7 separate regions of the Homo sapiens genome follow, and regions 1, 2, 3, 4, 5 and 7 are each reported to be linked to region 6. The links are microRNA targets in miRTarBase. Many come from high-throughput screens and were not tested one by one. Region 6 holds a microRNA gene; each other region holds the end of a gene's coding sequence.

Region 1 (4,081 bases), not on the chromosome of region 6:
TAGGGGGTTCAGTGTCGAGATAAACATACCTAGGACACCCCATGTTTCTGGGTTATCCTTAGATACGATGAGGTGGAGAGATTCCAGTCACAGAGAGAGGCTGTAAAGAGCAAGCAGGCAGTTGGAGAGAGCTACCAATCCCAGACACTCCAGCAGTTATGGTGACTGCCTGGATGGTCACTCACAGAGGAGGAAAAAGTAGTGAGAGAACTGGAGACAAGGGGGAAATGCAGGTCTTTCTGTACAACAGCAGCTTCCAATCAGAGAAACAGATGATGGGTATCCAGCTATGCAATCCACAAAGGACAAAGTCCCCTGCTTTGGCACAGTCTGATTGTTGGGATGAAACATGCCTAGAGGTAGAGTGAGCCCTTTCTAGGTTAACATAACCAGATATGGGACACCTGCCATTCACTGCAAAGTGCTTCATATAGCTGGCTGCATTCATCTGCTTAATAAAACCAGATAATGAAACAAACCCCCTTTTCCAGTTCCCCAGAGCCCTGCTGTAAAGAAGGTGCCTTTAATTAGAGTCAGACTGCACAGCACTGGGGCTCAGCTGTACTATAGTTTGATGCTGCAAGGCAGAAAAGTTACCGTGTATTTTCTAGGCAAGTAAAATGCAGATGATGTTTAATATCAGATATCTCTCCAAGGAAAGAACATTCTGTAGCTCAGACAAATAATGCAAGTTTGGGTTAATTTTTGGTTTGTCTTTTAAACATAGTACATTCAGGCTTTTGTTTGTGATCAGGGCAATAATGACAGATATAATTACTTAGAGATGAAGAAACCAAAACCAAGACACAAGGAGGCTGAGTAACTTGCCCAAGGCTCACACAGTTACTAACAGCAGGGCCAAGATTCAAACTCCGCTAGTCTGGCTTTTAATGTTGTTGTATTGATTTATTACTCTTTTTAGTCTGTCTTTAAGAGCTCACTTTCCTAGATGTTGTGGAACACTTGAGAGGGATGTGGTACTCTGAAAGGAGGGGCTGCAAATCACTCTATGTCCAGCAGCTGTGGGATGGAATGGTCAGTCTGTGAGGTCAGTCTCTGTACATAGTCTTCAGGCTCAAGTCAAGATGTCTCTTCTTGGCCAGGTGCAATGGCTCATGCCTGTAATCTCAGCACTTTGGGAGGCCAAGGTGGTAGGATTGCTTTAGCCCAGAATTTCAAGACCAGCCTAGGCAACATAGTCTCTATTAAAAAATAATAAAATAATTTTTAAAAAGGTATTTCTTTTTAAAATATCTTCTCTCTAAAGATATATGTACAAGGGTGTTAACTGCAGCATTGTTTTAAGAGTAAAAAGGTTTGAACCAACCTAGATTTCTATCAAAAGTAAGCCAGAAAAGTAAATGATGGTGCAAATACACAATGAAAAAACAGGCAGCTGTAATAAAGAAAGGAAACTATGTACTGACATGGAACTGTTGCCAACATATATCTGAAAAAAGCAAGGTTCAGAATAGCGTACAGTTTACCATTTGTGCAAAGCAAGGAAAAAGACCACATGTGTTTTTGCTTGTATAGACAGAGATCTCTGGAAGAATATACAAGCAACTGTAATACTTGTTGCCTCTGAGTGGGAAGTAGTCGCTGTGGGGAAAGGGTGAGAGGCATTTCATTCTACGCCATTTTGTACCTTTAATTTCAAACTATGTGAACATATTGCCTACTCAAAAAGTGTATGTCTGTACTCTCTTAAAAATGAATTACAATATGTAAACTAAACACAGAACATATAAAAATTGACATATACCCATGCAATCTATAAACAAAACACATGTATGGGGAAACAAGAAGTTATTAAATCAAGGTGGTAACAATCTTTTCCTTTTGTTCTCTATTTTTCCAGAATTCTTATGATGTGGTTATAGTAAGTACTTTTAAAGCATTTTTTCCACATTTAACTTACTTCCTCCATGACTCTACCAGTATTTTGATCAGTAATCATGGGCAGAAGAATGGAAATGAAGACTAAGGACTCCAGAATCCCAAAATTCACAGTATATTCAACAAAGAAAAAATCCCTACCATCCTTAAAAAGTTGGCAATCAATAGTTTCCAACCCTTTATGAAAATACATGGGGTATAGGCTGGGCGTGGTGGCTCACGCCTGTAATCCCAGCATTTTAGAGGCCTAGGCAGGTGGATCACTTAAGGTCAGGAATTTGAGACCAGCCTGGCCAACATGGTGAAACCCTGTCTCTACAGAAAAACAAAAATTAGCTGGGTGTGATGGCATATGCCTGTAGTCCCAGCTACTTGGGAGGTTGAGGTGGGAGGATGGCTTGAGTCTGGGAGGTGGAGGTTGCAGTGAGCTGAGATTGCACTACTGTACTCCAGCTTGGGCAACAGAGTCAGATCTTGTTTCAAAAATTAAAATTAAAATTAAAAATAAAGGAGAGGTGGAGAAAAGAGAGAAAACTTCTAATGTAAAAGAAAAATAAAGAAAAAAGCACATCAAGTTGTCATAAAATCATTGCCTGTGTGTTCATGACGTCAGATAAAATAGATTTGGAAACATTCAAATGCCAGCTGAAGGAAAGGAGTTTCTCCCACCCCTGAAACAAGGTAAACAGTGACCCACCTCTGTAATAAAAAGGAAACACGACAGTCAGGAGGTTAACAGAGCTCATCTGTTGCCACGATCTGCAGCTTGGCCTCTTAGGCTGACATTCACTTGAAGTCTATCATCTGATACAGTCACTTTCTTGGTTGTAATCTATGAGCTGCTGGTGTTTACTTGTGAGACTGTCTGGGAGCAGGAAGGGAAGGAAGGTAAATACACCAAAGCCCAGCTGAGCAACTGACAGGTTTTACATTTTATTTCCAGGAAATGAGATAGTATTTTCACAAAGAAGAGGTAAGCCATCCTCTCAAAATAGACACTGCCTTCAGAGGCAGCCATGGGGTACACCCAACCTATCCAAAACAACTGTCAACGGAGGTGTTTCCGAGGTATCAAAACAGTAACAACAACAACAAATTAAAAAAAAACAGAAGAGAACTCAAATAACTCTTTCGACATGTAGTGAGGCAGAGTCTACGAAGTACCCTGAAGCAGTTGGGTGCCGTGAATCCTGGTGGTGCTTCAGCCAATGATGGCAGCAGGGCTGGCCACCGTGGAAGGCAAGTGACTGAGGGCTTCCTAACTCAAGTCTCTGTCCCACAAGACTTCTCAGTTGACCTTCAGAGCAGCGGAGTCACGGCTAGAGAGAATCCTCCAGACCATCTCAGGCTCGCACTACCTGGCAGTCTTTCAAATGCCCTTAGAGCACGGTCTTCAGAACAATCTCTTTGCTTTGGAGAAAAAGAAGAGAAATAAATAAATGAGGAGCCTGTATTTCCCTTCCGTGGACTCCCTGCTTCCAGCCTCGCCACCCTGTCTCTTCCTCACACAGCAGCCATAGCGAACTGAGAAAACAGAAGTCAGATCATGTCACTCTCTGCTCAAAGCCCACTCCTCATTCCTCTCACAGTGAGTTAAAGTCAAAGTCCTTTCAAAGGCCTACAAGGCCCTACAAAATCTGCGTCTTGCTCAAGCTTCCTCTCCTACCCACTCCCCAGCGCTCACTCCACTCCCCAGCACTAGCCTCCTTGCTGCCCCTCCCACATACCAGCATGCTCCCCCTTACCATTCCCTCTTTCCCTACATGGCAGCATGGCCACCTCCTTCAGAGCTTCCCTCAAATAGTTCCTGCTCAGAGGTGCCTTCCTTGATTACCCTATCAAGAATTGCCAAGGCTTTCACCATCACCCCTTCTCCCCTTCTTGCTTGATTTTTCTCCATAGCATTAATTACATCTAACTTAGATTTTCACTTTTTACATTCTCAGCATCTAGAACAGTGCCTAGCACAAATCTGGCCCTCAATATATCTGTTAAAGATGTTAAAGAAAGGAATGAATTATATACAGGAATAGGCAGGGAGAGGCGGGAATTCTTCCTGTGTTCAGAGAGGGAGGGGACAAGAAAGGCTGTTTACTTACTAGCCTCCAGGCTTTTCCAATAGTCCGCTTCCTTGTGGGAATCCTGGCCTATGCCAAAGGCACAATAAAGTCACCAACCAAAT
Region 2 (4,000 bases), not on the chromosome of region 6:
TATAGTTTATCCAAAATGCTGCTGTTTTGGCATTTAGTTTTTCATGTTTGAAAATTCGTCTAGGCATCCAACAACCAGGCATTCAACACTAATCCTATGAAACAGCTAAAAGAAGGGAAATGGGCAGCGCATTCTGGTTAACCACTACTGTGCCAACATAACTGCCCCTTCCCCCACCCCCACCAACATGTCACTTGCTTGCCTGTGACATCTTAGGTTTCAAAGGTACATTCAGATATCTGAAATTTGTGCAAGGCGTGTCTGACTGCTGGCTAACCAAAGCAGCTCACAGGCCAAAGGTTACGGTGTATGCATAATTTTTCCCCTCAATTTTTAAGGAAAGTATTAATATTGCTGAGAAAGTCCAATTTTCTTTGCCTCTTCTTTGTTTGCTGTAAATAATGAGTGATTATGCAGACATGAAAGTCAATGGTGGCACAAGGTTCATTACCCTACTTTGCAGAGGGTGGCGAGGTCTGTTAACAGCAGGCTGCTGCAAGAGAGTTATTAAGGATGTGAAATCTCATTGGAATGTGTGCTTTCTATTTGAACAGATGACACCGTACATGAGTCAGCCGAGCCATCCCGCGGCGAGAACGCGGCACAAACACCAAGGATACCCAGCCGCCTTTTGGCAATCCTACTGTTCCTCCTGGCGATGCTTTTGACATTATAGCACAGTCTCCTCCCATCACTTGTCACAGAAAACATCAGGGTCTTGGAACACCAGAGATCCACCTAACTGCTCATCCTAAGAAGGGACTTGTTATTGGGTTTTGGCAGATGTCAGATTTTTGTTTTCTTTCTTTCAGCCTGAATTCTAAGCAACAACTTCAGGTTGGGGGCCTAAACTTGTTCCTGCCTCCCTCACCCCACCCCGCCCCACCCCCAGCCCTGGCCCTTGGCTTCTCTCACCCCTCCCAAATTAAATGGACTCCAGATGAAAATGCCAAATTGTCATAGTGACACCAGTGGTTCGTCAGCTCCTGTGCATTCTCCTCTAAGAACTCACCTCCGTTAGCGCACTGTGTCAGCGGGCTATGGACAAGGAAGAATAGTGGCAGATGCAGCCAGCGCTGGCTAGGGCTGGGAGGGTTTTGCTCTCCTATGCAATATTTATGCCTTCTCATTCAGAACTGTAAGATGATCGCGCAGGGCATCATGTCACCATGTCAGGTCCGGAGGGGAGGTATTAAGAATAGATACGATATTACACCATTTCCTATAGGAGTATGTAAATGAACAGGCTTCTAAAAGGTTGAGACACTGGTTTTTTTTTTTAATATGACTGTCTTAAAGCATTCTTGACAGCAAAACTTGTGCTCTCTAAAAGAAGCCTTTTTTTTTTTTCTAGGAGGCAGGTTGGGTGTGGAATGCTAATACAGAGCAGGTGTGAAAACAGAGAAAACTACAGGTTTGCTGGGGGTGTGTATGTGTGAGTGCCTCTAATTTTTTTGGTGACTGGGCAGTGCACACCAGATATTTTTTCTTTGAATACAGATCACCATGGTGCTACAACTTTTTTTTTTTTTTTTTTTTTTTTTTTTTTTTTTTTTAAGAAACTCAAAGAGGCATTTTTATGAATAAAGTGACCTTCCCCAAGGCTGACAAGCCAGGGTTGATGAGTGCATAGTGGAATAGCTTTGGATACTCCTCTGGGGGATGACATGTACCAAGGAGAGGACCGCAGTGGCCAGAGGAGACATGATTTGGCTTTGCTGGAGCGCCAGTGTGCTGTGGCCTTTCCCCGCCTCCCACCCTAGTACCCACGTTTTGCTCCACACTCCTTGACCGCAGGGGCTCGGACACAAACCCCTGTCACCAGGAGAGTCAGTCAGCACTACTTGGGAGGGCTAAAGGGAAATTTGGAAATAAAATTCCAAAGTTTGGAGTAAAAAAATTCAAGTGTTGATTTTATATTCTTTCCCTTTCTGACACAGCCTAAAGCGTAGGGGGAACATGTGTTTATCTGTGGGAGATAAACAAGATGGAGTCCCAAAGACTTTAACAAAATATTTTTTTAAAAATCCACTAGAATAGAAAATACATTATTTAGATATACTTTATGCTGAGAGTGAGTATATATGCTTGTCCTATTTAAACTTGTGAGAAAAAGTGGTATCCCTTGATACATTTAGAAATATGGGGGCTATCTTGTTTCATTGTGGGGGTGGGGCAGAAGGAGAATAAATGCAGGATGACCCTGTTGAAGGAATCTTAGCATGGCCAACAGGGGACGTTTCCAGTCGATTACCAGGAAATGCAAGCCTTGGGGTTTCTACTGGTGGTGGGGCTGTCATGAACTTTAAAATCCAAAGCCTAGACAAGGAAAAGTGTTAGACCAATTGAAAAGCAATCCAGCCCTTTTTTTTTTTTTTTTTTTGGCTTTGCACGACATGTCAACAGAAACCATGCCTTTCAATATAAGAAATAAATGTGATGATCATGTAAAATGTGAAAAATTGAAAGCATTCCAGCAAAATAAGAATTTTTTATATATTTGTTTTTTAAGATGTATATGTTAAAAAAAGAGAAGGTCGCATTATGGACAGACTTCGTGAATGGGAATTTGCTTAGAATTGTGAGTAGTTCTGAATTAGAAAAGTATGTGAAGGAAAGGCAGCTGTAAACGTATTGTGCCCTGGAGAGTTGTACACATGTTGAAATGTAATCTGGGCTTACCTGATCCATTTGGAGTGGATGTCACTGCCGAGTCTGTTCTCACATGGAACCATGTGTGTGGGGTTGCCAGCCTCACAGATACAATCAATCCTATTCCCCTCTGACATAAGGAACTCCTCTGGAGTGGCAGAGTCTTATCACAGAAGGCAGCCACCATTTCACCAAAACAAAAGTTCACGGCATTCAATTCCTTTTTCCTTTAGCTATTTATATATGCAGTACTCTCAGTCATATGCAGAAATACTTTTTTTTTTTTAATTAATAGTTACAGGCTTGTTGGTCCAGTGGGATTTGGGTAGGGGGAGAAAGATACCTTCTAAAATGGATCAATAGAACCAAAATAATACAGCATGTTCTATAACCACAAGGAAATCAAATGATCCTGTCATGATTCCAGTTAGTCATAACTATGTTAGCAGTGCTAAATGCATTTTAGAAATGGTGACTTCTGTGGTTTTCCTAGCATTTGTCTCTAACAAATGGTGAAATAATTACTCATGGCCCTCTCTGCCATTGTCTTTCATTTTTTCACAGTGAAATTAGACCCCTTTACTTCACCATTCTGCCACTGCAAATTAAGTATAAAGAAAATAGCAAGAGTGTCCACACCAGTAGACAGTAAGCTTCTCTACCTGTAAGTGATGAAATCATAGCTAATGCACTTGCCATGGAGTTTTCAAGATGATTGGTGTCAGACAGTTTTCACTTTGTTTAAAAAGTGTTGGTGGCCTTTTGTGGTGGTGTTACAATCCTCTGGGGGCTTAGGAGGATGTTGATGCAACTTTTAGAAGCTTTTAATTTCAAAAACAACTCAAAAATCTGAAGGACAGTCATAGCTGCCACTCAGCCCCAGTTAGTCAAACCCCAGTGACCTTTGCCCCTGGTTGCCAAGGGCTTTGCAACATCAAGCAGGGAAATAAGGATCTGTCTGTTTAGTGGATACCGTGTATCCTTTAATAGACCAGGTAACAGTTCGTGTTAGTTTAGACTATTGTTTTGTACTGTACTTTCTTGGGTGGCAGAGGAAAGAAAAGTAAAACATTAAAAAAAAAAAAAAAACTGCGTTCTTTAAATTCTGTATTATTAGCAACCTCTGTTGTACATAGTGTTTGATAATAAAGTATTAATTTGATTCTTATGTCTTTTGTAAGTGAGAACAATAGACTTTCAGGATACAAAACATGCATTGAGGCTTTGAAACATCCAATGTGTACCATGGCTGAAAAAAAGAGTCACAAGTGGCTGAGACACTGCTCCATACAGGACTCATGTGTGGTCATTGCCCACCCAATCTTATGACTCCATCATCTTGGGACCT
Region 3 (4,094 bases), not on the chromosome of region 6:
AAGCTTGAGGCTTTGCCTGCACGCTTGGGTAACTGTAAACATCATCTTCAGGCATAAACCATGGGCCTGTGATTGCTGGAGTGATTGGGGCCCGAAAACCTCAGTATGACATCTGGGGAAACACTGTCAATGTGGCCAGCCGAATGGAAAGCACTGGAGAACTTGGGAAAATCCAGGTAAAGACCTATTGGGGAAGCAGTTGACTAAGGGGAAAAGATCTTCCCCAGAGGTGAGGGGACTTGGACTTAAGAGCTGCTGTCTCACCCAGCAGCCATGGTTCTAGCTATCACACTCTCCAGGGAAGGCAGACTGCATGCCTGGGCAGTCTCTATCTGTCCCTACCATGACAGGTGTTCTTCCCGCCTCTGAAGACAACAGGTCTCTCTTCCTTTTCAGGTTACCGAGGAGACCTGCACCATCCTCCAGGGCCTCGGGTACTCTTGTGAATGCCGTGGCCTGATCAACGTCAAAGGCAAAGGCGAGCTGAGGACTTACTTTGTCTGTACGGACACTGCCAAGTTTCAGGGGCTGGGGCTGAACTGAGGGCTCCTGCTGGATTCCGAAAAGGCCGGGAAGCCAGTCTCCTTCCCTGAAGCAAGCCCAGGAGAAGACTCTCCGCCCCACGCCAATCCCAAAGGCATGCAGATGGCTGTGCATGTTGGCTTCTTTGGACCTGCACTGGAGGATTTCTCAGACACATGCACCAGATTCTGGCTCGAAGCAGCCACTGAGCCATAATGCGCAGGGGAGGCCAGAAGCTCTGTGCCTGGTCTGTAACAGTTTCCAGGCCAGCTGGAGAATGTTCACTGGTTCGGGGCTGACTTTGAGATCTTTGTTCCCTGAGGTGCCAGGCAGGCAACTTTAGCACATGATGAAAACAGACTTCCACCTCAGTGGCCTGTGGGCACGCACAAGTGAGGTCTGTTTTTCTAGACACCAAGGGGGAGTAAGCTGAGCTGTCTAGCACGGATTGGAGACTCCCTCTCCCTGGTGGGCCTGGCAATGACAGCATTTCTCACAGAGGCATTCTGGTAAATGAAGCTGAAAGGGGTGTTTTACATCTGTAAACGGTTTCAAACAGGTAGAGAGAAAAACACCACAATTAACACTGTTACTTTTTGCCTTGTCTGGCATGTTTGTTTTAAATGAATACATTAATGGGGTTTTTATCCTTTTGAATGACTTTTCAGACACTAGACATAAATCTCTTCCCTCCAGTGTATGCTCTGCCTTTTTAACCACTGACATGTAAGGAGGACTACTGTCTAGCATCAGCTTATGGGGTCAGCTGGCTGTGGGGATAGAGTCCTGAGGAATGTGGTCACAGCAAGAAGGCGGGGAGCAGCAGAGCCTTGCCTTTGAATGAGGCAGCTTGTGAGGCAAGCATTCTGGAGAGAGGTGCTTTGAAAGTAAGGTGCGGCCTTTCACCTCTTCCTTGATTACTCACACATCTTTGCGTTCTCCCCTGCCGTCCTTCAACTGTATCTTACTTTTCTTACCAGAAAGGAATGGAGTCTGTTTAGAGACAACTTGGACAACCTGTGAGTGCATCTCTTCTTTCCTTTAGTCTTCACAGCTAACTCTGGAGAGCTTCAAAACTAGAAGGATCTACTCCGCATGGGTGCATGCAGAGGCTCCTGGATCTGGGAAGCCCGCCCCCTCACAAATGCTGAGCCGTTCTTGCTCTGAAACTGCGTGAGTCAAGGCAAATGCAAAAAGCCAGGTTTTGGGGATGTGTCTTACTGTGCTTCAACTTCCCAAGGAATTGAAAGTCAACCTAACTGTAACAACAGGGTGAGAAATGACCAAACTGCCCGTGACTTTTTCTGAATGGACTTCATAACCGGAAGACTTAACCGGTGGCCTCATCACCAGAGCATCGCCAGGATTTCTAATGCACTCAGTTTCCCTACATAGCAGGGATTCTTAGCTAGGTGTCCCCATGAACCCCGTAAAGTTCTACACAAAGTCTTGCATACAGGAGCCTTTACAAGATGATTATACAGGGTTGCAGATTGGGTGACTGACCAGACTTGTTGGGGTCCTGGGATGAGTTGCCCCGGGCTGCAAATTAAGAGTACAGCTAAGTGCGGGGGTGGCGGTGGAGGGAACGAAAATTGAACCTGTCTGCCTGTGCTGTGTCGTGTGGCTTTATCAGCCCGAGGAAGGGCAGGTGTATTCTAATTTGCACAAAGGTGCTGGGTAGACTAGTGGCAGCTCTCATGTGCTGCACATAAGTGGAATCAGTATGAATAGAAGAACTTGCTGTATAAAGGAATTTCATGGCAACAATGCTGGTAAGGGCAATTAGCCTCGCTTAAGTTGCCTTTTTTACACACCAAAACTTTTTACATGAAGGGCTGGTTTCACATGAATACTATACTGAAATCTGTGCTCTCAAGATCTAGCAGTGACCAGGGCTGCCCGGCGGGGGCTCTCCTGGCAAGTCAGGAAGGTTTCTGTTGCTAATATAACATAGAAACACATTAGTGCACTGGGCCTCTCTGAGGTCAGCATATTTGTACTCTTGGAATATTTGTTTTTTTCTTCAGTAACAACAGAAACCCCAGTTGGGAGTTTAACAAATAACTGACTACCACTCACTCATGCATTTTTATTTCCAATTAAAGCAAAGCACTGTGCTGTGCTCAGATAATAATAGTTTGTAAGTAAAAGTTTTTAGTTTTCAGTGTTCAGGTTATAGAATATAACTGACCATAAAAATTACCTGCAGGTATTTTCTTTTTATGAACTTGTTTTTAAATTACCAAGTAATTACTGGTGTCATTTTGTTTTATGACAGACACACGTATCTAACAAACAAACAAACAGTGACCTTCTCCATGGGTCAAGGACTTCCTTACAATTTCTCCTGAGTTAACTTTTGTGAAAATAATACCTAAGGTTTTCTGGCTTATTGAGGAAATTTCCTAACAAACAAACAAACAAACAAACAGAAGAGAAGATCATTAACCACTGTATACTTTGTGTATATAATAGGTCAGTGTAAAGAAATATGATTTGAGGTGGTGCATGCAAGTAACTAGGGTTTATTCTATATAATGAATATTTATAGATCTGTAACATTTGTTTCAAAATGCTGTTTCATTTTTATAAAGTACCAGTGTTTAGCTGCTTTTTATACATTAAATTAGCAATTTGAAAAACTCAAATATCTGAAGGTATTTTATTTTCGTGGTCCTCATGAACTCACTAGAGATTAAAAGTAGACTCAAACAACTTGAAAATTTGACTCTTTTAGCATAAGATTTTAAGTCTTTTGAGGGAATTAATTTTCCTTTACCCTATTTGTTCTTCCTAAATACTAATTAATTTTCAAAGTCAGGAAAATAATAGAAATCAAATGGCTTCCTGCCTGGGTGATTTATAGAAGGATTGTATAAGGGCCTTCAAACTTAATTTGTTCACTGAACAAGGCTATCTATCTATCTATCTCCATCCTGATTTTTTTCCCTTGTGTATAACAGGTTCTATACCGATTCAGCAAAATCACCATTTATCTCAGCTTGCTGATAAAAGGGGGCCATGAATCTTGTGGTCTCCTACTTAGAGTTCAACTCCTTGGGTACTTGACCTTTGTATTTCAGATAAACAGTAAGTAAAGTAGAAATGTCACCTTTTGGTAATCTGGTAATTCCCTGATCTATTCAAGGATGACTTAGTTTATCTTATTTGGCTTATTACTTTGCTATAGTACTAAGTAACTCCTCTTTCTTTAAAAAACGGAAAAAACCAAAAAAGAACACTAGCCATGTGACAGTGCTATAAAACTCCCAGTGTGCTTTTGTCAGGGGTGGGTGGGAGGTGCCTAATTACCCATACAAGGGCATCATTCCCACTGGGTATGCAGGGGCAGAACCACAGTAGTAAATTCTAAAATTATTTCAAGTATGTTCGTATAACGGAAAATCTCACTGGATGGGGCCGTTTTAAGAACGCTTCTTAGTGATGATCCTGTCTGTGGGACATAAGGAAGAAGCATTGGAAGGCACTATTTTGAAAGAATGCTGCACAGGTATGGCAACAGCCCCAAGCACATTCCTTCCTCACGAGTCCCAGGTCCAGCTTTATTA
Region 4 (4,092 bases), not on the chromosome of region 6:
GAAAATGTCCCAAGAAGCTCTCGGAAGGAGATGGCGCTGAGAAGCTTCGGAAGCTGCAGCCCTCACTTAACAGTGGGCGGCTCCTACATCTAGCCATGCGAGGTCTTGGGGAGCTGGGCGCCCAGCCCCAACAGGACCATGCACGCTGGCCCCGGGGCAGCAGCCTGTCCGAGTGCAGTGAGGGGGATGTCACCATGGCCAACACCATGGAGGAGATTCTGGAAGAGAGTGAGATCTAGGGTGGAGTTCCACCACCCTGGCTCTGCTCCCAGGGACTCTTGAGGGGGCCCAGGAAGAGGAAGCAAAGCAGGACACACGTTGCTGGGCACGGAATCATTCTCGTTCCATTCACCATGCCACTTTGATATGAAAGCTATCACAAGGTTCTTCAAGCTCTGTATGAAAGAGGCTGTGTGTCATGCTCACAGCCTCTGCCTGCTCTTCTCATCCTAATAACCCCCACCAGTGTGTTTTCCACAATGCCCACCAGACCCTAGGGCCTGGCTCTAAATTCAAGCCAATGAAGTCCCACCATGAAGAGAGGTCTCCTGTTATAGAGAAGCCAGCCAATATCTCTTCCTTTATCCCTTGGGGTGCATGCTTTCCATCTGAGGTTGGGTTTAGGGTGCGTGAAAACCTCCTAGGAAGCTTTTAAAATGCAGAATCCTAGACTTGTGGCTAAGATTCTAAGACAGTGAGTCTGGGACCATGGCCAGGAATTGGAGCTGTTTAATAAGCATCCCAGGTAATTCTGCTGCAAGCCCACCCTTGGAGAACACTGGGCAGGGTGAGAGGGAGCTAGAAGCGCCCCCATGTGGCCATGGCAGGATGCTGCAAGAGACAGTCTGCTCTCCCAGGTCAGCTGGGGTGTGCCTGCCCTCCTTGGAGAGTATGTAACTCCACCCACCAGAGTGCCACTCCTCTCTGCTCTTCCTCTCCTATCAAGTCTTGCCTCTCTCTCTCTTTGCCTCAGTTCTCTGTCCCTGCACAGCAGGAGTTCTGCTTGATCCTCCCTTTGAGGATTGGCCCCAGTGCCTGGGGACCCTCTGAATGTCGTCTTTGGTCTGTTCCTCTCCTTTCTGGCTCTATCTACCTTTCTGAGTTTGGCTTCTACCAGCCTGATTTACACTACCATTCTCTTGGGGCAAGGAATGTCCCCACCATTTTTGGTTTGCCATTGATGCATTGATTGTCACACCTGTTGTCCCAGGAAGTTGACCTATAACTCTCCATGGCCAGAGTCCCTGCTGATCAGAATTCAATTTGCCCAGTGGGAATAAATACTGAAAGCAGGAGGGCCCAGGTAAAGCAATAGGAGTTTGGCTGGATCTGGACATGCCCAGGGTGGCTCTGAGAGATCCAAGACTTTGCATCCACCAGCCTGTGGGATCTTTCCTGCCTACTGTGACCCATGGAGGCTGAGGAGGGCCCAGGCAGTTGGGGTCAGGCTCAATGACTGAAAGTATAGGGCAAGAGGCTGTAGGAAGATCAAGGGATGGACATCCTTTGGAAACAGTGTGTTAATGCACAGGAGTGTCACTTTCATGGTATGTAAAATGCATGTGTACGTGGGTGGGGTATGTTGCTATGGGACTAAATACCACCTTGTCTTCGGGGGAGTCAGTTTGATACTCCTCAAGCAGGGCTGCCATATTTAGCAAACAAAAACAAGGTACTCAATTAAATTTGAATTTCAGACAAATAGTCTTCTTGTATAAGTATATCCCATGGGCATATTTAATCTGAGATTGGAATTCAATCATGCATCTTGTCTTTTACTGGCATCTCTGTTTTCAAGGATACTTTGCCACAGGGCTGGGACTAGGGTGAAATAATCAAGGCACTCATCTCTAAAAAGCTCAAAGTAAATGATCAAAATAAATCATATTTTAATGCAATATTCTAAAAAAACAAATTAACAAACTACAGCCCATGAGCCATTTATAGAAATGAAATTTGATTGGAGCCAGGGGCAGGATAAGGGTGAGGCAGGAGAGGCCAGCTCTTGCAAGTGCAGGCTCTGGTCCTGACTTTCAAATGTTGTCTATGAGGGACTTTTAATGTGAATTTTTATTTTTAGACAATTGCATTAAAATGTTATTTATATTGACTATGGGGACTTTTGGGGCCCCCTTAAATTTTGCACTTGAAATGGGATCCCCACTTGTGTCACCCCATAGTCCAGCCCTGGTTTTAGGATGGGGATGGAGGCAAAGGCATCAGGCAAGTAATGAAGCAAAGGTTTATTTTTTGGTGTCCAGATTATCCATAGCTCAGTCATGAAAATCTATGTCTTTCTATTTTTCTCCTTTCTGCAAATGTCCCTGCCTCGGCTCATCAGCCAATTAGCTCCTAGAAAGCTGGGGTCATCTCGTATTCCCAGCAAGTACCCAGCACAGTGCCGGTTCAGAGCAGGTGCTCCACACACATTCCTGGAATGAGACAGCACAGAAATGGCTCTCGGGAGCCTCGGATGCTGCTGGGAGTAAGTGATCCAGGACCTTACCGCTAAGAGGAGAAACTTTTTTTCAAAGCATTTATAAATACTCCCTCCACCCCTCACTCCACAAATGGGGTGATCAACACTTACTGCTTGCTCTTGTTCTGCTAATGATTAAAACAAGTTTATTTAATTTCATTTGCATTTTGTTGATTCTTTTACATTTGTCTCTCACTGGAGCTGAAGGTCTCTCCCACCCATGAAGAATGCGATGCACTATTCCTGGCCAGAAGTGAGGAAAAGGGCTGTGGCGTTTAGCCAGGGACCTGGGTGCTCCAATATCTTAAATTTGGTCTTAGGGACCAGAGGAGTGGGCAGAGGGGCCGGGACCAGAAGCAGAGGTCAGAGGTCAAAAGAATGGAAGGAGAGTGTCTCCCCTTTTATAGACCACCCCATTGGTCACTCAGCTTGCCTGTTGCTTTGAAGATCTAGTCTAGTGGTTCTCAATCCTCGCATTACAATCCCTTGGGAAGCTTTTTATTTATTTTTATTTATATTTATTTATTTGAGACCCAGTCTCACTCTGTTTCCCAGGCTGGAGTGCAGTTGCATGATCTCAACTCACTGCAACCTCCACCTCCCGGGTTCAAGCAATTCTCATGCTTTAGCCTCCCGAGGAGCTGGGTCTACAGGCGTGAGCCACCAGGCCCAGCTAATTTTTTTTGTATTTTTAGTAGAGACGGGGTTTCACCATGTTGGCCAGGCTGGTCTTGAACTCCTGACCTCAGGTGATTGCCTGCCTCGGCCTCCCAGAGTGCTGGGATTACAAGTGTGAGCCACCACGCCCAGCCCCCTGGGAAGCTTTTTTAAAAGACCAGTGACAGGGTCTGACCCCAGAGGTTCTGATTGAAATGGTCTTACTAGACCTGGGCATTGGGATTTTTATAAGTTCCTGAGTGATCTTTTTTAAATTGTGGCAAAATATATATAACATAAAATTAACCATTGTAGCCATCTTTTTTTCTTTTTGTTTTTTGAGACAGAGTCTTGCTCTGTCACCAGGCTGGAGTGCAGTGCTGTGATCTCGGCTCACCGCAACCTCCACCTCCCAGGTTCAGGCAATTCTTCTGCCTCTGCCTCCCGAGTAGCTGGGACTACAGGCGCCTGCCACCACTCCTGGCTAATTTTTGTATTTTTAGTAGAGATGGGGTTTCACCATATTGGTCAGGCTGGTCTCAAACTCCTGACCCCAGGTGATCCACGCGCCTTGGCCTCCCAAAGTGCTGGGATTACAGGCGTGAGCCACCGCGCCCGGCCAGCCATTATTAAGTGTATGGTTCAGTGGCATGAAGTACCTTCTTACTGTTGTGCAGCCGTCACCACCATCCATCTCCAGGACTCTTTCATCTTCCTGAACTGAAACTCTACATCCATTAAACAATAGCCTCCCATTCTTTCCTCCCCAAGCCCCTGACAACTTCTACTTCCTGTCTCTGTGAATTTGCTTATTCTGGATACATCAGCTATAAGTGGAACTGTATAGTATGTATCCTTTTGTGATCAGCTTATTTCACTCCCATAGTGCCCTCAAGGATCATCCACCTTGTAGTGTGTGTCAGAAATTCCTTTTTTAAAATGCTGAATAATATTCC
Region 5 (4,094 bases), not on the chromosome of region 6:
AGTCTCAACAAATAGAACCGAACCAACCAACCACACAGATAAAAAAGTGAATCTTGACCCTTATCACATATGGTACACAAAAATGAACTCAAAATGGATCACAGACTTAAATGTAAAAGGTAAAACTATAAAAGTTCCATAAAAATAAAAAACATAGGAAAAAATCATGTCCTTTGAGTAGGCAAATTTCTTAAACTCAAATTATTATAAAATATCATAAATCATTATTATTATTATCTTGGTTTACTGCAACCTCTGCCTCCTGGGTTCAAGTGATTCTCCTGCCTCAGCCTCCCGAGTAGCAGGGACTACAGGGGTGTGCCACCCGCCCAGATAATTTTTGTATTTTTAGTAGAGACGGGGTTTCACCACGTTGGCCAGGCTGGTCTCAAACTTCTGGCCTCAGGTGATCTGCCTACCTTGGCCTCCCAAAGTGCTGGGATTACAGACATGAGCCACCACACCCAAATCTTTGATAAATTAGGCTTAATAAAAAATATTCAAAAGACACCATTAAGAAAATGAACAGGCAAACCAAACATGAAAATATTCACAATATTTGTCACAAATGGAGACAAAGAATTCTATATATTACATGTATGTTTTTCATGCAGAATATGGAAAGAACTTGAGTCAACAATAAGCATCCCAACTTAAAAACAGGCAAAAGGCACGAACAGACACATCACAAAAGACGACACGGAAAAGCAATAAGCAGATGAAATCATAGACATACATTATTCAGTGGGCAAATACAAATTAAAATCATAAGGAGGCTAGAGTGGATTAAATTTTAAGAGACTGACAATGCCAAGTGTTAGCAAAGATATGGAGCAACTGGAATCTTCCCATAATGTAGTAATAGTGTAAAATGATTCAACCACTACAGAGGGCTGTGTGACAATTTCTTAGGAAGTTAGAAACACGTATTGCAATGGACTGAATGTTTACATCCTTGCACAATTCATGTCAAATTCCTAACCCATAAGATGATATGAGGTGGGGTCTTGGGGAGGGGACAGAATCACAAGGGGAGAGCCCTCATGAATGGGGTAAGCTTGCTAGTCCCTTTCCACCACGTGCAGTCACAGTAAAAAGACATCTACTTAAAAGGAAGCAGGCCCTCACTAGACACCAAATGTTGACACCCTCATCTTGGACTTCCCAGCCTCCAGAACTGTAAAACATAAATTTCTGTTGTTTATAAGCCTCCCAGTTGATGGTATTTTGTTATGGCAGCCTGAATGAACTAAGACACTTACAACACAGCAATTAAAGTCCTAGGTACTTACCCAAGAGAAATAAAAACACATGTGCAAATACATACTTTTACACAAATGCTCATAGTTTTAAGAGCCGAGACTGGAAACCCATTAACACATGGATGAATAAACAAATGATGGCTTATCCACACAATGGAATACTATTCAGCAAGGAGAACTACTGAAACACAAAACAGCTTGGATGAGTCTAAAAACATGCCAAAGTGAGACATCAGACGCAAAAGAACACATAGTAAATGAATCCATTTGTATGAGGCTCTAAACCAAGCAACACTAATCTATGAGGATAGAAAGTGGTTATCTGGGGCTGGAGTGGGCTTAACTAGGAAAAGGCAAAAGGGAACTTCTTTGGGTGACAGAAACGTTTTTGGTTCTGGCGGTGGTGGTTACACAGGTGGTGGTGGTTACACAGGTGTATAGATTTTTCAAAACCTTGTACACTTAAATAGGCGTTTTACTATATGAAAATTGAATCTCAATAAAGTTGATTAAAATGGTCTGGTAAAATCTACATTTGAAACATCTCTAGTAATGCTGATTTTCCAGAAAATGTAGATCTCTTTTTTGAATTATTTGTCCTGAGACGTTCAGGGTTGGTAGTATTTAAGAACTCAAAATATGGCCTCATGAGAAAAAAATTATATCGTTACAAAACTGGACTTTGGGGTTCATGTCCAGATGAAATTCAGAGGTAAAGACTAACAGTTTGGCGAGGCGGCTGTCCACTGTCCATTTACCTCGCCTGCTTTCGAACAGTCCTAGCCAAAAAGCCATCTGTCATGGCTCCATGTTTCTGCAGATTCCTCTCCTGGACCCTATTTTCTTCTTCAGCTGCTCTCTACTGATCTCTGGCCCAGCTGAAATGTCACCTCTTCTGTAAGGCCTTCCCAGCTCTGTGCCACAGCAGGCACCCCCTCACCTGTGCTCCTTCACACCTGAGGGCACATACTTAACTCACCCTACTGTGATCTCCGTCTTCCCCACTACACGGTGGATGACTTCAGGGTAGTGGGTTGCTCATCTGTTTTCCCAACATTGAGGACTATTCCTTATAGATATCAATACATTTTGAAATGACACAATGAGCCAGAGAGCATGGAAAATGACAAGAGCTCAGTTCAACCTCAGAACTGCTACAACAGAAGAGTTACGTAGCGCATTGAGACTGTGCCTTTCGAGTGAGACAGAAAGATACAGACAAGTAAGTAAAGACCTTCTCTTGAGACCTGCCTCCTCCTGTCCCCACTGTTCCAGCTGAGCCAGGTGTCAATGCCCTCCAGATCAAGTAGACAGTTCTGCATGAGCTGTAAGGTGGCACACAGGAGGGCGTGGATGTGCACAGGATATTGCCTGCAACTTCTAAGTAGGAGCAGCAGACAGTAGCAGGGCTGAGAAGATACTTCTAACAGAATCGTAGATTATACTGATACAAAATGAACAAACAACAAAAAAAACAGCCAACAGCTGAAAATTTTTAGAATGGCAGTATAGAAAGGACAAAGCAAGAGAGATGCCAATTACACATAGATTTAGGGGTGTATTTTTTATTGCCCTGTGCTAGACAGTGGACACATGGAAATCAATCAGATATGATCACTGTCCTCAGGAACCCAACAGCATAGTGACAGAGATAGTCTATCACATCATTCTGACATATGCAAGTAAATATAGTAATAGCAGTAATCACTGAGCCACAGAAGTGTGGAGAGTGCTGCCAACTAAGCTTGAGGGAAACACCCATTGACATGATGCCTGAGGCTTGTCTTGAACCATGATTCAGAGTTAATTAGCTGAGAAGAGACCCTTCAACAAGAACAAAGGCGAGAGAGGTAGGAAGCCACGTGGAGCACAGGGAAGATGAAGCAGTCGGTGTTGCTGCAGCATTAACCGTGTGGCAGGAAGTCAGGCAGTGGGAGGCAGGGCTCCAGGACGCAGGAGGCCTTAGGGCACACGATGGGAGGCCTGGAGTTCCTCCTCAGGACAACAGGGAAATGGCTCGGGGTTCATACACGAGTTACCTTTCTTCAACTTAACACATCAAAATGTCCTAGGTAACATTCTCCTAAATCGTAAGATTAGATACACAGTTGTGCTGTAATAAGGGATTTAAGTCAAGGATGGACTCTGCTTAACTGGGGATGAAACTTCTTAAAAACCTTTTCTTGAGACCTGTCTTCTCCCTGCCCCTACTGTTCCAGCTCAGAGTCAGGTGTCAAGCCCTGTGACTCTCCTGAGGACAGTGCTCACAGCTGAGGAGAAGGGCTGAGCCGAGTAGGGCTGCACAGTGGCAGGTGGCACCCACTGCAAAAGCAGCCCCATCCATGACTCACAAAATTCTGACATGTCCAAATCTTAGAAACCACATGAATCCTAATTCCACGCATTTCCAAACATCACTCACTGGGCGGGAAAGTAATTATTTTATAAGTTACCTGTGTGTTCCCCCTTATCTACAGACCTCTCACCCAAATGTATGGGGGCCTTACTCAAGGAGAGTCCCTCTTGGTGAACCCTTTGATTATTTTTAACGTTTGTAGTTGAGTTAAAATCTCTCCCATACTGACTACATTCATAGAGCTTCTCTTCAGTATGAATTTTCTGGTGTTGAAGGAAGTTTGACCTCTGAATAAAGCCTTTCCCACAATAACTGCACACATAGGGCTTTTCTCCAGTGTGAATAATCTGGTGCAGAAGCAGCTTGGAGCTCTGGATGAAGGCTTTCCCACAGTCTTTACATTCGAAGGGCCTGTCCCCAGAGTGGATCTTCTGGTGCTCAGTGAGATGGGCTTTCTGGAGAAACGCTTTCCCACA
Region 6 (4,094 bases):
CCTATATAATGATAACATTAAAACCACAAAGCTGACGTTGGTGTAATACTACCAACTAGACCAGACCTCATTCAGATTTTATTAGTTTTTGCAAGTATGCATCTGTGCGGGGCAGTGGGGGATAGGTCTATGCAGTTTTATCACAGCTAGAGATTCACGTACCTGCCACCACACACGTGCTCTCTTACCTCTGAGGTGGGTGCTACCCCCATTCTAAAGAGGAAGGAGTGAAGGCGGGTGAGAGGAGGGAGCCTGCCCGAGGGCATAGGAGGAGCAGGCATGGCGCCCACGCCCTGCTCTACAGCCCACACTCTTTCCCTGCTCTCAGTTGGATTTTCAGTGCGGGATGCATGGCCAACCTCTACCCAGCAAGGCCCTCTTACCCCGGCCGAGTTTCCTCGGAACTCGCGGAGCCGCCGTCGGAGCTGCAGGCAGTGCTCCAGGTCCTGGCCCAGGTCACCAACATTCATCTTCACCTCCTGTGAAGGCCGAGGGTGGGGAGGGAGCGCTGTGAGCACCAGCCCAGGCTCCTGGCACCTGCTGCTGGGGATCCCTCCTGTCAAGGGAGGGCTCCTCCCCCCATCTCTCAGCCCCCACCCAGCTGGGGCTACACCTTCTCCTGGATCCAGGCCTCTGCAAGGTCCACTCTCTGCAGGAACTCCAGGAAGTTCCGCCTGTCCTCCAGCTCCTGGCCCCTGAGGGCCATTGCCTGCCTCAGGTCCTCCCAGTGCTTCCGCAGGCCCTGCAGCCGCTGGGAGACCTCTCCGGCTCGAGGGTGACTCTGTGCCAGGAGAGCCTCTCCCTTCTGGAGGGAGAGAGGGGACACAGGACATCTTGCCTGCTGCACTTCCTCCTAAGACTGACATTGCCCCTGGGCCACACTTTGGGGCAGGCATGGGGCTGAGGGCCCGGTTGTTACCTTGGCAACAGAGGTCATGACCTCCTCATGGGCCTGGACTTCAGCCTCAAAGGCCTGGTGTTTCAGCAGGGGCTTCAGCTTATCTCTCAGGTCCCCAGGAGGGACCGGCTCCTTCAGCTGCTGGGCCCACGCCTGGATCCAGTCCTCAGCCTGGTGGGGGTGGGACATGAATGCTGCAATGTTCTGCAGCCTCAGGCCCCAGACGCCACAGGCCTAGCCCCCAGCCATTCCCAGGAGGCTGGCCTCAGGGGTGGGGCGGGCAGCACCTGGTAAATGAGCCCTGAAGGTTCCAGCTCCGGAAGGTTGCTGCAGGAGGCAGCCGGGCAGGGCCTTGGGTGGGCTCTCGTTTTGGAGGTGTGGCCCCTACTCCTGGGGCCCTGGGCTGCTCTGCTCCCTTCCCCACCTCTCTTGCCCTGGCGCTGCTAGAGCTCGGGACACTGGTGAGGTCTCCACACAAAGGGGCTTAGATCCCATGTTCTGGGCTCCAGCACAGCCTCTGGGAAAGCCATCCACCCCCGAACCTGTTTCCGCCTCACAGTGTTGCGGTGTGAAGGCGGCTGAAAACTGTCGAGTGTGGTTCCAGTGGAAGGCCCTGGGCTGGGGGTGCCCTCTGACCTGGGTTGCGGCCTGGGTGAAGCTGGCCATCAGCAGGGAGGCATGCAGGGCGTGTCCCCGGCTCTCCGCCAGCTCCTTCACTCTCATCCGGCGCTGCAGCAGGATGGGAAGCCGGTCCCGCACCCGGGGGCGCCGGAGCGTCTTCAGCCGCTCACGCAGGGCTGCCTCCTGTGGGGCAGGGGCACAGCTGCTGCTCTCCCACCCTGGGCTGGGGCAGGGCCTGGCCTGCAGGGCTCACAGTCCTTTCTTTGAGGGCCCCGGAGCCCTTTCCTCAGCCCCACATGGCTGAGGGGTATCTGATCCTCCCAGCCACAAGCCAGACCAGTCTGCTCCCCAAGGACCACACGGTGTGGACAGAGCCAAATGCCCCGTGTGGGTCTCTGCAGTGTGGCCCATCTCCCCCTGGGCCCTCTTCTTGAGCCACACATACAACTTGCTCAGTCAACCCCAACCAGGACCCCAGCCTTGCAGGCTCATCAGCACTGCCTCCAGGAACACACCAAGCGCCCCGTGACCCCCTTCAGGACTCTCTCCCAACCACCACACTCTGACCACGCCCAGGCCTCCTGACTCCATTACCTTCTTGTCCTGGGCAGTCAGAACCTTCAGGAAGACCTCGTGCTTGCGAATCAACTGCTCTACCTCTTCCACCGAGCTCCCCAAGGCACTGGTTTTCAGGGAGACCTGGATCCACAGAAAAGTCAGAGGCCACCAAGCCTTCCAGCCAGCCAGCCCCTCCAGCTGCAGTCTGTGCCCATGGGCACTCTGGGTATGGCAGGGCCTTAGGAGTGCCCACTGAGCTTGGCATGGAGCTGTGAGGAGTGGGAGTCCAGGTTGGGAGGCTGCGATACCTCAACCTCTGCACCATGTGGGGAGCATGACCAGCCTCTGGCCAACTTCCTCGGGGCTCAGTCTGGGATAGGGGCTGGGGATGTCAGTGGACGCTCAGGGGCCTCAGCACTTCACCATGGCCACCTGGAAGGACTTGTGCACAGCTGCCTCATATTAGAGAAAAAGCCAGAGAGGCAGGAGGAAAGGGACTGAGCAGAGAGGAGAATAGAAAGGAGGAGCAGGAGGCTGAGCGGAGTGTGAGGGCGGGAGGGGACCTGCCTCCTGGGCCGCGAGGATCTCCTCCAGGCGGCCGCACTCTCTGAGGAAGAGCTGCTCCTGCTGCTCGGCCTGCAGCCTCTCTTGCTTCCGTGCCCAGGTCTGATACACCTGGTCCCGCTGGTCCTGCAGGGCTCGAAGCTCTTCCTGGACCTGGGGATGGACACATGAGGAGCCTCAGCTGGGGAGGGTGGTGTGGGTGAGGTGAGGACTGGATCCTGAGGGAAGCTCCTGAGGAGAGGCCAGCATGGCACAGTAGGACGGGGCACCAGGTGGCCAGGCACAGGCTTGGTCAGCTAGGGTATGTGGGGGCACCAGGGGAGGGGGCCCACCTCCTTGGTGGGTGTCCCTGCAGCAAGAAGTGCCTGCTGCCCCAGCTGGGTGGCCTGCTGCCACAGCTTCTCCCGGGCCTCCAGCTCCGCCCGGAGCCACTGGTGGGCACTGAGCTTCAGCGGGCCACTGCTAGGCTCTTGCGAACTCTCCTCCACCTGCAGGTCCTGGCGCACGCGGGCTGCCCAGGAGGCATAGTCACGCACCTGATCCCGGGGACACGGAGGGAGAGCCGGGTGAGGGCTGGGCTGGGCAGCAGGAAACCAGGTGCTGAGGCAACTGCAGCCCACCTGAGTCCACTCACACAGCCCGAGCCGACCTGGGTCAGGGCCTCGGGTGAGGCACATGTGGCCCTTTGTCACTTGGTTTCTCCGTTCTCATCCAACCCGATCCTCCCAGAACCACGAACCCCCTACATGAGCCAGACCCTTACCACGACACATCTCTGCCCTTTGTTCCTCCTGCCTTCCCATCTCTACAGAGCTCACCTGGATGAGGCCATGAGAGGACTGGCGGCTAGCAAGATCAGCCCCATCAAGACTGCTTGATGGGGAAAGAAAGTTCACCTGCTCTTCAAAGGCCCCTTGGCCGCATTTGCCTGGCAAAGCCTTCCCTGGTATTTGACATTGCACTGCTCTCCTTGTTCTCTGAATTACTAATTTAACCCTTACAGTCTTCTGCTGATTTGTGTACAACTATACAAGATTGGTGCTGGAGGGACTTCAGGCCCTTGTCCAAATGTCTCATTGCATGGAGGAAGGAAGGGTAAATGGCAGAAAGAGTCTTGTAAACTCTAAGTGCATGACAAACCCAGGGTTAAGTGCCTTGCTCAAGCTCACACTGCTAGCAAATCAGCAGAGTTAGGTCCCTAAACTCAAGCCTTTTTGCAGTGTCAGTTTGGGCCTCCTGGTCTGCCAGGTCCCAGGACAGTGGGATGCCGGGGACACCCCGTGGCCAGGACCTACTGTCCCAGTCTGATTCTCTGGGTTTCGGGCTCATCTCCCCAGGAAGCAGGGCTCCATGAGGGCAGCAGTTCCACTTTCCATAGCTTCTATATTGCCCTCCTCTCTCCACCCGTGGCTTCAGCAGGGAGCTGAAGACAGACATTAAATAGATACTGACT
Region 7 (4,000 bases), not on the chromosome of region 6:
GCAAGAGAAAGGCACTTTGAATTCAAATGCAGCTTATGAACAAAGTCATTTCTTCAATAAAAATTATACCGAAGATATTTTCCCAGTGACACCACCGGAGTTAGAAGAAACCATTCGAGATGAAAAAATAAGAAGACTTAAGCAGGTGCTGAGAGAGAAAGAAGCAGCTCTTGAAGAAATGCGTAAGAAGATGCACCAAAAATAAAATCTCCTGTAAAGACTTCAGTGAAATAGCTGTTTTTTAAAATATACTTCAGCATTAATAAGTTAATTGTAGGTGTGTTCTGAAAGTGTCTTTGAATATGAAGCTTGTTTTTTCATCAGTCGATTGTACAACTTTAAGGAATACAGAAAAGGTTGATTCACATATGACTTGTGAATAATTTACATGGGGTATCTATACCTTTGTCTTAGATACCTTTTTTTGGAAGGATAAATTTTATATTTTTCTATTATTTTAACTAGAATTCTCCAAGTTTGAATATTTGGGCAGGGTTTTTGTTATTGTTTGTATCTTTACCTAAATTGCTCAGGCATTATTCCAGCAGTAGATAGTGACTGTGTATTACTGAAATTTTACAATTCAAGAGAGGAAATCAGCTCCAAACTTAGCTTTTCCAGTGGATTTGTATATGTACTTGCTTTATCTCTTTACCCTTAAAATGATGATACCTTGTATTCACCATTGTTTTTTTTAATGTCGTGAAATAATATGTATTATGGCAACATTATTTAAACATTCAAACATTTCTCAAGAATGAGCAACATTTGTAACTTTACAATGTAATTTTATATAATCCAAAGGTATTTTAGAATTCAGGCCATTTGATGTTTTGTTTGCTTATAGTGATGTGTTCCCAGGCAAATGCTGCTTTTTTTTTTTTTGGGACTATGTACATACGTTACTGAGATTGTGTAAAAAGTAGATCCTGAACAGTTATCACATTTAATATTTCTTAAACTGTAAAAGTGTATTTTCTCTGTCTGGTTAATCTTTGATTTGGGAAAGTTTGGGAATGGTGTAGGGATAGGGATTAAGAGATGGGGAGTTAGCTGAGCGTGGTGGTGTGTTTGTAGTCCCAGCTACTCAGGAGTCTGAGTGGGGAGGACTGCTTGAGCCCAGGAGTTTGAGGCCAGCCTGGGCAGCACAGTGAGACCCTGTCTCTTAAAGGAGGAGGAGGAGAACAATGTTATTAAAAAATGATCAGGCCGGGTGCAGTGGCTCACATCTGTAATCCCAGCACTTTGGGAGGCCGAGGCGGGCGGATCACCTGAGGTCAGGAGTTTGAGACAAGCCTGGCCAACATGGCGAAACCCTGTCTCTACTAAAAATACAAAAATTAGTCGGGCACAGTGGCGGGCACCTGTAATCCTAACTAAGGAGGCTGAGGCAGGAGAATCGCTTGAACCTGGGAGGCAGAAGTTGCAGTGAGCCAAGATTGTGCCACTACTGCACTACAGCCTGGGCGACAGAGCCAGACTCCGTCTCAAAAAAAAAAAAAAAAAAAAAAAGGATCAAATCTCTGGAAGTAAGAGAGGTTAAAGAAAAAAAAAATCTGTGCAATGGCAACAAAAGAGTAAATCAGAAAATACTGTAAAGAAGTGAAATACACAGATCAGCTAGATTTTGCTGCTTTCTATTAACAGCTGTTTTGCAATATAATTCATGTACTGTAAAATCCAGCTTTTTAAAGTACACAGTTCTCTGGTTTTTAATATGTTTACAGAGTTGTACAACCATCAACACTATAATTTTAGAACATTTTCAAAATGTTCAAAACATCCCCCAAACAAACCTTATACCCATTAGCAGTCATTCCCCATCACCTCTCCTTATGCCATAGGCAAGCACTAAAAAGCTTTCTGTCTTTATGGAATTGCCTGTTGTGAACATTTCATATATATGGAATCATACAATATGTTTTTCTTTGTGATTGGTGTTTTTTTACTTAGTCTAATGTTTTCAAGGTTTATCCATGTTGTAGCATTTATCAGCACTTCATTATTTATTGCTGAATAATATTCCATCATGGATATACCACATTTTATCCATTCGTTATGAATATTTGGATTGTTTCCACTTTTGGCAGCTACAAGTAATGTTGCTGTGTATATTTGTGTACAAGGTTTTTTAATGGGTATATATTTTCAGTTCTCTTGGGTATATACCTAGGACTGTAATTGCTGGGTCATACAATAACTGTGTTTAACTATGTTTTGAGGAACTGCCAAACTATTTCAGTCAGGTTTTGCTCTCCCCACACCACATAAACATACTGTCAAGGTCACCAGTGACTTCCATATTACTAGATTCAGTAGTCAATTGTCAGTCTTCTTGATTTATCAGCAGAATGTAATTTCATGAATCATCACTTCCTTTGAAAAATGTTGAAACATTCTGTCATAGAAACAGTGCAAATGTATTGTAGAAAATATAGGCCAGGCGCAGTGGCTCACACCTGTAATCCCAGCACTTTGGGAAGCCGAGGTGGGCAGATCACCTGAGGTAAGGAGTTTGAGACCAGTCTGACCAACACTGGTGAAACCCCGTCTCTACTAAAAGTAGAAAAATTAGCTGGGCATGGTTGTGCATGCCTGTAATCTCGGCTACTGGGAATGCTGGGGCAGGAGAATTGCTTGAACCCGGGAGGTGGAGGTTGCAGTGAGTGGAGATGGTGCCACTGCACTCCAGCCTGGGCAACAGAATGAGACTCCGTCTCAAAGGAAGGAGAGAGGGAGGGAGGGAGGGGAAAGAGGAACGGAAGAAGGAAGAGGGGGAGGGAAGGGCAAGTGAAATATTAAAAATTGAAAATATAGCAAGCAAAATATTAAAAACTAGAACTTCATATTCCCATCCAAAGTTTACCACTAATACCTTATATATCCTTTCTGATCATTCTGTGTGCGTCATACATACATATATTTTTGATCAAAATGAGGTCCTTATTTACACTATTCTGAATCCTGCTTTTAAAGTCAAGAATTGGCCTGGCATACTCATACCTGTAATCCTTACACTTTGGAAGTCTGAGGCAGGAGGATCACTTGAGGCCAGGAGTTCGGCTGGGCAATGGCAATAGACCCCATCTTTGCCAAAAATTTAGCCAGGTGTGGTGGCATGTGCCTGTAGTCCCAGCTACTTGGGAGGCTGAGGTGGAAAGATCACTTGAGCCTAGTGGGTCAAGGTCGTAGTGAACTGTGAACATGCCACTGCATTCCAGTCTGGTTGACAGAGTGAGAACATACCTTTAAAAAAAAAAAAAAAAACAGCAACCTTGAGCTTTCCCTTTCAGTGTTTTCATCTCTAATACTAAAGCTAAATTTACCAATTTGGCCTCAAAACGTTTTTTACCACTGGTTTTTCTAAAGCAGTATTAAATCTAGGTCTATGTGTCTTATCTAGCTGTTATACCCTGTAGAGCTTTTAAGTGAGTGGTTTTGTTTTTAAAATTTTTAATGACATTGATTTAGAGACCAGCTATTTGTCCTGACTCCTTTTCTCCTTGATATACTTTCATTTCACTTCTGAAAGACCACACTTCTGCCTCATTGACTAGTCATTCTCAGTCTCCTTGCTGATCCCTTCCTTCTCCCTAATCTCTTTACATTAAAACACCTGAGGACTCAGTCCACGGTTTGCCTCTTTGCTTATACTCACTCTCTTGGTGATCTCATCCAGTTTCATGGCTTTAAGTACTATCAATGTACTGCCAACTTGCAGTTTTTATCTTTTATTTCCAGGCTTTCTTGAATTCCAGCTGCCTATTTAATATCTCTATTGGATGTCTAAATAGACATCTCAAACCTATGTTCAAGACAGAAATCTTGCTCTTCCCTCAAACTAGCTGCACCCACAGGTTTTCTCATTTCAGCTGATGACAACCGCATCCTACCAGTTGCTCAGGCAAAATCTTGAAGTCATGCTTTACTCCTTGCTCTCACACCTCACACCCAATACAAATTTTGTTGGTTCTGCTTTCAAAATACTCCAAATATGACC

What was found. Region 6 holds the annotated microRNA hsa-miR-4310 (GCAGCAUUCAUGUCCC, at 1,081-1,096, opposite strand). A microRNA usually pairs through its seed, bases 2 to 8, with sites in the 3' UTR of a target mRNA and lowers its output. Matches are read on the target gene's strand: a 7mer-m8 pairs with bases 2 to 8, a 7mer-A1 pairs with bases 2 to 7 and ends in A, and an 8mer does both.
Region 1: miRTarBase lists RNF8 as a target of hsa-miR-4310. Seed matches in the 3' UTR shown: 7mer-m8 at 2,132-2,138 and 7mer-m8 at 1,292-1,298.
Region 2: the mRNA of EFNA5 is a reported target of hsa-miR-4310. Seed matches in the 3' UTR shown: 7mer-A1 at 2,066-2,072.
Region 3: miRTarBase lists ADCY7 as a target of hsa-miR-4310. Seed matches in the 3' UTR shown: 8mer at 1,666-1,673, 7mer-m8 at 2,291-2,297 and 7mer-m8 at 3,097-3,103.
Region 4: miRTarBase lists GLP2R as a target of hsa-miR-4310. The part of its 3' UTR that is shown has no 7-base or 8-base seed match.
Region 5: the mRNA of ZNF623 is a reported target of hsa-miR-4310. Seed matches in the 3' UTR shown: 7mer-m8 at 3,162-3,168.
Region 7: the mRNA of LRIF1 is a reported target of hsa-miR-4310. Seed matches in the 3' UTR shown: 7mer-m8 at 865-871.

The regions. Positions count from the first base shown.
Region 1 is chr6:37,389,970-37,394,050 of GRCh38, reverse strand. RNF8 (ring finger protein 8) reads right to left here. Exons shown (of 8, transcript NM_003958.4): 8 at 1-3,309. The coding sequence ends at 3,293. Among named protein-coding and RNA genes, the nearest start is that of RNF8, 38 kb to the right of the region's middle.
Region 2 is chr5:107,377,931-107,381,930 of GRCh38, reverse strand. EFNA5 (ephrin A5) reads left to right here. Exons shown (of 5, transcript NM_001962.3): 5 at 555-4,000. The coding sequence ends at 676. Among named protein-coding and RNA genes, the nearest start is that of EFNA5, 290 kb to the left of the region's middle.
Region 3 is chr16:50,314,963-50,319,056 of GRCh38, forward strand. It overlaps ADCY7 (adenylate cyclase 7), which reads left to right. Exons shown (of 26, transcript NM_001114.5): 25 at 52-176; 26 at 397-3,173. The coding sequence ends at 543. It overlaps BRD7 (bromodomain containing 7), which reads right to left. Exons shown (of 17, transcript NM_013263.5): 17 at 995-4,094. Among named protein-coding and RNA genes, the nearest start is that of MIR6771, 24 kb to the left of the region's middle.
Region 4 is chr17:9,889,467-9,893,558 of GRCh38, forward strand. GLP2R (glucagon like peptide 2 receptor) reads left to right here. Exons shown (of 13, transcript NM_004246.3): 13 at 1-2,633. The coding sequence ends at 239. Among named protein-coding and RNA genes, the nearest start is that of RCVRN, 14 kb to the right of the region's middle.
Region 5 is chr8:143,651,094-143,655,187 of GRCh38, reverse strand. ZNF623 (zinc finger protein 623) reads right to left here. Exons shown (of 2, transcript NM_001261843.2): 2 at 1,458-4,094. The coding sequence ends at 3,705. Among named protein-coding and RNA genes, the nearest start is that of ZNF623, 17 kb to the right of the region's middle.
Region 6 is chr15:41,865,425-41,869,518 of GRCh38, forward strand. MIR4310 (microRNA 4310) reads right to left here and starts at 1,127; the gene lies at 1,071-1,127. SPTBN5 (spectrin beta, non-erythrocytic 5) reads right to left here. Exons shown (of 68, transcript NM_016642.4): 33 at 2,974-3,177; 34 at 2,645-2,794; 35 at 2,114-2,218; 36 at 1,535-1,702; 37 at 920-1,069; 38 at 614-805; 39 at 384-479.
Region 7 is chr1:110,944,164-110,948,163 of GRCh38, reverse strand. LRIF1 (ligand dependent nuclear receptor interacting factor 1) reads left to right here. Exons shown (of 4, transcript NM_018372.4): 4 at 1-974. The coding sequence ends at 205. Among named protein-coding and RNA genes, the nearest start is that of LRIF1, 18 kb to the left of the region's middle.